Linked DNA regions of Homo sapiens. The protein of the gene in region 2 purifies or fractionates together with the protein of the main gene of each other region. This does not show direct contact. Each region holds a gene or a part of one and is shown on either strand. Other genes may lie near its edges. The genes, in order: EPB41 and HPRT1.

What was found.
Region 1: the proteins of HPRT1 (region 2) and EPB41 purify together in Homo sapiens (co-immunoprecipitation; one large-scale study listed by IntAct). This does not show direct contact.

What each region holds. Positions count from the first base shown.
Region 1 is NC_000001.11:28,990,803-28,994,628, forward strand, and holds part of EPB41 (protein 4.1), read left to right. Parts: intron 1-2,527; coding exon 2,528-2,740; intron 2,741-3,826. UniProt on the Homo sapiens protein: Protein 4.1 is a major structural element of the erythrocyte membrane skeleton. It plays a key role in regulating membrane physical properties of mechanical stability and deformability by stabilizing spectrin-actin interaction. Recruits DLG1 to membranes.
Region 2 is NC_000023.11:134,473,483-134,477,308, forward strand, and holds part of HPRT1 (hypoxanthine-guanine phosphoribosyltransferase), read left to right. Parts: intron 1-1,698; coding exon 1,699-1,882; intron 1,883-3,826. UniProt on the Homo sapiens protein: Converts guanine to guanosine monophosphate, and hypoxanthine to inosine monophosphate. Transfers the 5-phosphoribosyl group from 5-phosphoribosylpyrophosphate onto the purine.

The DNA.
Region 1 (3,826 bases), on a different chromosome or scaffold from region 2:
ACTTGTCTGCATTGTCTAAAGTTCATAGATTCGTACTCAAGTTGACACAGATGATGGACAGTTAATTTTAGATTTAACTAAAATCTCATTCATTAAGATTTAATTCCGAATTGAAATAAATTGTCCGTAGGTTATTTGTCTTCATGTGGAGAAAAAGAAACGATATTGTTAGTAAAATTTCAAGGAGATATTATTTAAAAGAACAAACTATTTTAGGCCTTTTGGAAACTAATATTTATAGTCAAAACCTTGTGGATCAGAGTCGTCTGGATAAAGGTTTATTTGCCTAACCATGTTTCTGTATATGTAATAGGATTTTATTTAAATGGTTCTTTTTTATCCAGAATTTTTTAAAAAGCGTGTTTGCTTTATATTATAAATATATAAATATATATTTATATTACATTTAAGTGTATAATATATATAAATATAGGATTGTACCAGTCTTCATCCAGAGTAGCTTGGATTTTTTGGAAGCCTATGTAAATTTTTAATGTTTGTTTATTCATTCAACAAATATTTATTGAAAACCTACCATGTGTGCCAGGCCCTAGGCTGGATATACCTTGGTAAATAAAAACTGCAATATGGTGAAGAGGTTTAAAATCATGGATTTTGGGGCTGAGTGTGGTGGCTCATGCCTGTAAATCCAGCACTCTGGGAGACTGAGGCAGGAGGATCACTAGAGCCCCGGAGTTCGAGACCAACCTGGGCAACATGGAGAAACACCATCTCTACAAAAAAGTAAAAAACTAGCTAGGCATGGTGGCTCTCCTGTAGTCCCAGCTACTTGGGATGTTGAGGTGGGAGGATCACTTGAGTCTGAGAGGTCGAGGCTGCATTGAGCCATGATTATGTCACTGCACTCCAGCCTGGGTGATAGAGTGAGACTCTTGTCTCAAAAAAAAAAAAAAAAAGCAAAAAAAACAAATCGTGGATTCTGAAGCCAGACTGGTATGTGACTTATTAATTGTATGATCCTAGGCAAGTTACTTAATTTCTCTGGCCTGTTTTACAACCCTGCAGGCCAGGTACTATTATCCTCCCTCTATCAAGTGGGGATATAATAATACTACGTGCCTCGCAGGGTAGTTATGAGGATTGAGTTAGTTCACATAAGTAATTTTCTTAGAATAGTGACTGGCCCATTGTAATTGTTGTATAAATGTTTGGTATTATTATTATTATAAAACAGACATGATTTCTACCCTTGTGGACTTTAATAGAGAAGACAAAAAAGTAGCAAATAAAAATAATTATTTATTGTAATAAGTTATAAAGCCACCAGAGTACTGATATGAAAGACAGTAGAGCGGGCATAGATAGATAGGATAGCCAGTGAAGAGACTTCCTGAGGTTGCAGTGAGAGGGTCATGAAAGATCGGAAGGAGTCTTTTAGATTACTTCCAGTATTTAATGCAGGAGTCAAATAATTAATTTCTTTTTCCTAATTGTCAACCATGCATTCTTTTTTTCTTTTAATTGTTTTCCAGCTGTTACACAAGGAAGTAACATATTCTTTTAAAAGAAAATAATTAGTCGGGTTTAGATAAAAATATGTCGGTAGTTTTGTTGTGTTGAAAGTAAAAGTAAAAATGTATGCCGGCCAGGCACGGTTGCTCACGCCTGTAATCCCAACACTTTGGGAGGCCGAGGCGGGCAGATCATGAGGTCAGGAGATCAAAACCATCCTGGCTAACGTGGTGAAACCCCATCTCTACTAAAAGTACAAAAAAATTAGCTGGGCGTGGTGGCGGGCGCCTGTAGTCCCAGCTATTCAGGAGGCCCAGGCAGGAGAATCGCTTGAACCCTGGAGGCGGAGCTTGGAGTAAGCCGAGATCGCGCCACTGCACTCCAGCCTGGGCTACAGAGTGAGACTCCGTCTCAAAAAAAAATGTATACCAAAAATGTTATCCTACTTATCGGTATTATTTGGGGATAATTTAAGATTGCACCAGGAAACTCTTCCTTCATTGACTCTTCTTTGCATTTAACATGATTAATATTGGGTAGAAAGGTGTTAGCTGGTAGTTAAAATTTTTAGCCTACTACATGTTTGCTTAATGATGTGAAATTGGTCCCAAGCATTTCTCTTAGAATTAAAATTAATTTAAAATTTAGAATATGTAACAAGTCACATCTTATTTTGCAGTTTGTAAGGCTACATTGCTAAAATTGAGGAGCATGGGCAGAGACAATAACGTTTTTGTTAAACTTTAATAATACCGTGTAATGGCTTGGTCAGGAAGAATATATAATGCTGAGAGCAATGGATTGGTATCCTCCGGTTTACCTGAGACCTTCATTTATTGATTTGATGGGATTCTACCTGAGAAGTTTTAATAACAAAGTCTTTAGGGCATTTGGGGGATCATACTATTTTTTATAGAAAAATATTTAATATTAATGTCACCTATATTTGTTTTAGTTCATGCTTTTATTGGTAAGATTATTATAGGTAAAAGCATATACAGCATGTTTTGTGAAATGTGTTTATTACTGACTTGGCGATGTCATGGATATGTAGCCTGCTCAGGAAGAACTCAGAGAAGATCCAGATTTTGAAATTAAGGAAGGAGAAGGACTTGAAGAGTGCTCCAAAATAGAAGTAAAAGAAGAAAGCCCTCAATCAAAAGCAGAAACAGAATTAAAAGCTTCCCAAAAACCAATCAGAAAACACAGGAACATGCACTGCAAGGTTTCTTTGTTGGATGACACAGTTTATGAATGTGTTGTGGAGGTGAGTATGTTTTCATTTCCAACAATCAGAACTCTTACAGGTGGTTTCATCTAGAGTTGCGTAAGTGGTGATTTTGCCCACGATAAGACTCACTGTAGTGATTATTTCTTTTTTCTTTTTTTTTTTTTTTTTGAGACAGAGTTTTGCTCTGTCACCCAGGCTGGAGTGCAGTGGCATGATCTTGGCTCACTGTAGCCCCCAACTCCCATGTTCAAGTGATTCTCCTGTCTCAGCCTCCCGAGTAGCTGGGATTACAGCCATGTGCCACCATGCCAGGCTAATTTTTTGTATTTTTAGTAGAGACAGATTTCACCATATTGGTCAGGCTGGTCTTGAAGTCCGGGCCTCAAGTGATCTGCCCACCTCGGCCTCCCAAATTGCTGGGATTACAGGCATGAGCCACTGCGCCCGGCCTTTAATGATTATTTCTGTAGATGGAAGTATTAATGGTGATTTTCTGGAGGTGGGATTATGGGAAGATGATGAGTAAGTCTTTAAGTCCAGTAAATGCCATTTCTTAAAATTTTCTGTTTTCTGAAAGAATAAGTGATTGAATCAGGATTGAAGAAAAATATCAGAGTTATTCAGTTACTCTTTTTGCTCCTTCAGGACAAGTTGACAATTTTTTTTTTGTTTGTTTGTTTTTTGAGACAGAGTCTCTCTCTGTCGTCCAGGCTGGAGTGCAGTGGTACAATCTCGGCTCACTGCAAGCTCTGCCTCCTGGGTTCACGCCATTCTCCTGCCTCAGCCTCCAGAGTAGCTGGGACTACAGGCACCCGCCACCACGCCTGGCTAGTTTTTTGTGTTTTAAGTAGAGACGGGGTTTCACCGTGTTAGCCAGGCTGGTCTCGATCTCCTGACCTCGTGATCTGCCCGCCTCGGCCTCCCAAAGTGCTGGGTTTACAGGCTTGAGCCACCGCGCCCGGCCAGAGCAAGTTGAAATTTTAAAAAAATCTACTAACTATATATTTTTCAAACTGGAACAGTAGTTGTTTATTATGATATGCTTGATATATAAGCAATTGCAATTGTTACTAGTAACAGCTTTTATTGACAAAGTGTGTAATTCACATATATGTGGAACAA
Region 2 (3,826 bases):
ATGAGGTTTTTTACTTTTTCTTGTGTTAATTTCAAACATCAGCAGCTGTTCTGAGTACTTGCTATTTGAACATAAACTAGGCCAACTTATTAAATAACTGATGCTTTCTAAAATCTTCTTTATTAAAAATAAAAGAGGAGGGCCTTACTAATTACTTAGTATCAGTTGTGGTATAGTGGGACTCTGTAGGGACCAGAACAAAGTAAACATTGAAGGGAGATGGAAGAAGGAACTCTAGCCAGAGTCTTGCATTTCTCAGTCCTAAACAGGGTAATGGACTGGGGCTGAATCACATGAAGGCAAGGTCAGATTTTTATTATTATGCACATCTAGCTTGAAAATTTTCTGTTAAGTCAATTACAGTGAAAAACCTTACCTGGTATTGAATGCTTGCATTGTATGTCTGGCTATTCTGTGTTTTTATTTTAAAATTATAATATCAAAATATTTGTGTTATAAAATATTCTAACTATGGAGGCCATAAACAAGAAGACTAAAGTTCTCTCCTTTCAGCCTTCTGTACACATTTCTTCTCAAGCACTGGCTATGCATGTATACTATATGCAAAAGTACATATATACATTTATATTTTAACGTATGAGTATAGTTTTAAATGTTATTGGACACTTTTAATATTAGTGTGTCTAGAGCTATCTAATATATTTTAAAGGTTGCATAGCATTCTGTCTTATGGAGATACCATAACTGATTTAACCAGTCCACTATTGATAGACACTATTTTGTTCTTACCGACTGTACTAGAAGAAACATTCTTTTACATGTTTGGTACTTGTTCAGCTTTATTCAAGTGGAATTTCTGGGTCAAGGGGAAAGAGTTTATTGAATATTTTGGTATTGCCAAATTTTCCTCTAAGAAGTTGAATCATTTTATACTCCTGATGTTATATGAGAGTACCTTTCTCTTCACAATTTGTCTCTTTTTTTTTTTTTTTTGAGACAAGGTCTCTGTTGCCCAGGCTGGGGTGCAGTGCAGCAGAATGATCACAGTTCACTGCAGTCTCAACCTCCTGGGTTCAAGCGATCCTTCCACCTCAGCCTCCTGAGTAGCTGGGACTATAGGTGTGCGCCACCACTCCCAGCTAATATTTTTATTTTGTAGAAACAGGGTTCGCCATGTTACCCAGCCTCCCAAAGTGCTGGGATTACAGGCATGAGCCACTGGCCCAGTTTCTACAGTCTCTCTTAATATTGTATATTATCCAAGAAATTTCATTTAATCAGAACCTGCCAGTCTGATAGGTGAAAATGGTATCTTGTTTTTATTTGCATTTAAAAAAAATTATGATAGTGGTATGCTTGGTTTTTTTGAAGGTATCAAATTTTTTACCTTATGAAACATGAGGGCAAAGGATGTGTTACGTGGAAGATTTAAAAAAAATTTTTAATGCATTTTTTTGAGACAAGGTCTTGCTCTATTGTCCAGGCTGGAGTGCAGTGGCACAATCACAGTTCACTCCAGCCTCAACATCCTGCACTAAAGTGATTTTCCCACCTCACCTCTCAAGTAGCTGGGACTACAGGTACATGCTACCATGCCTGGCTAATTTTTTTTTTTTTGCAGGCATGGGGTCTCACTATATTGCCCAGGTTGGTGTGGAAGTTTAATGACTAAGAGGTGTTTGTTATAAAGTTTAATGTATGAAACTTTCTATTAAATTCCTGATTTTATTTCTGTAGGACTGAACGTCTTGCTCGAGATGTGATGAAGGAGATGGGAGGCCATCACATTGTAGCCCTCTGTGTGCTCAAGGGGGGCTATAAATTCTTTGCTGACCTGCTGGATTACATCAAAGCACTGAATAGAAATAGTGATAGATCCATTCCTATGACTGTAGATTTTATCAGACTGAAGAGCTATTGTGTGAGTATATTTAATATATGATTCTTTTTAGTGGCAACAGTAGGTTTTCTTATATTTTCTTTGAATCTCTGCAAACCATACTTGCTTTCATTTCACTTGGTTACAGTGAGATTTTTCTAACATATTCACTAGTACTTTACATCAAAGCCAATACTGTTTTTTTAAAACTAGTCACCTTGGAGGATATATACTTATTTTACAGGTGTGTGTGGTTTTTTAAATAAACTCCTTTTAGGAATTGCTGTTGGGACTTGGGATACTTTTTTCACTATACATACTGGTGACAGATACCCTCTCTTGAGCTACATCGGTTTGTGGGGAGTCAAAAGTCCTTTGGAGCTAGGTTTGACAAATAAGGTGGGTTAACACTTGTTTCCTAGAAAGCACATGGAGAGCTAGAGTATTGGCGAATTGAAGAAATCCCCCTTTTTTTTTAACACACTTAAGAAAGGGGACTGCAGGTATACTCAAGAGAGTAAGTCGCACCAGAAACCACTTTTGATCCACAGTCTGCCTGTGTCACACAATTGAAATGCATCACAACATTGACACTGTGGATGAAACAAAATCAGTGTGAATTTTAGTAGTGAATTTCATTCATAATTTGATCGTGCAAACGTTTGATTTTTATTACTTTAGACTATTGTTTCTGATTTTATGTTGGGTTGGTATTTCCTGTGAGTTACTGTTTTCCTTTAAAATAGGAATTTTTCATACTCTTCAAAGATTAGAACAAATGTCCAGTTTTTGCTGTTTCATGAATGAGTCCTGTCCATCTTTGTAGAAACTCGCCTTATGTTCACATTTTTATTGAGAATAAGACCACTTATCTACATTTAACTATCAACCTCATCCTCTCCATTAATCATCTATTTTAGTGACCCAAGTTTTTGACCTTTTCCATGTTTACATCAATCCTGTAGGTGATTGGGCAGCCATTTAAGTATTATTATAGACATTTTCACTATCCCATTAAAACCCTTTATGCCCATACATCATAACACTACTTCCTACCCATAAGCTCCTTTTAACTTGTTAAAGTCTTGCTTGAATTAAAGACTTGTTTAAACACAAAATTTAGACTTTTACTCAACAAAAGTGATTGATTGATTGATTGATTGATTGATGGTTTACAGTAGGACTTCATTCTAGTCATTATAGCTGCTGGCAGTATAACTGGCCAGCCTTTAATACATTGCTGCTTAGAGTCAAAGCATGTACTTAGAGTTGGTATGATTTATCTTTTTGGTCTTCTATAGCCTCCTTCCCCATCCCCATCAGTCTTAATCAGTCTTGTTACGTTATGACTAATCTTTGGGGATTTGTGCAGAATGTTATTTTAGATAAGCAAAAACGAGCAAAATAGGGGAGTTTAACTTTAATATTTTCTTTTAAAAAGCATTTCATGTTATAAGATCAATTCTGAGTGGTAGAAATGCTTTGACATTTTATTTCCATTTTCTACTTTTAGTTTTTTTCCTATTTGTTTAAGATCTTAGAGGATTATTAAGCTGAACTCCTCAACTGATAAAAAGCATGACATCTTAAACATAAGCAAAGCATATTTTTAGGTTAATTTTCACATAGAAAACAGTTTATTTTATGTGAAATTCTATGTAGATATACTATTTTTTTGGTATTTATTGATATGTTTATTTTATTTTATTTTATTTTATTTTATTTTATTTTATTTTATTTATTTATTTTTTTTTTTGAGACAGAGTCTCACTCTGTTGCCCAGGCTGGAGTGCAGTGGCATGATCGTAGCTCACTGCAACCTCCACCTCCCGGGTTCAAGCAATTCTTCTGTCTCAGCCTCCCGAGTAGCTGGGACTACAGGTGCCTGCCACTATGCCCGGCTAATTTTTGTGTTTTTAGTAGAGATGGGGTTTCACCTTGTTGGTCAGGCTGGTCTCGAACCCCTGACCTCAGGTGATCCACCCA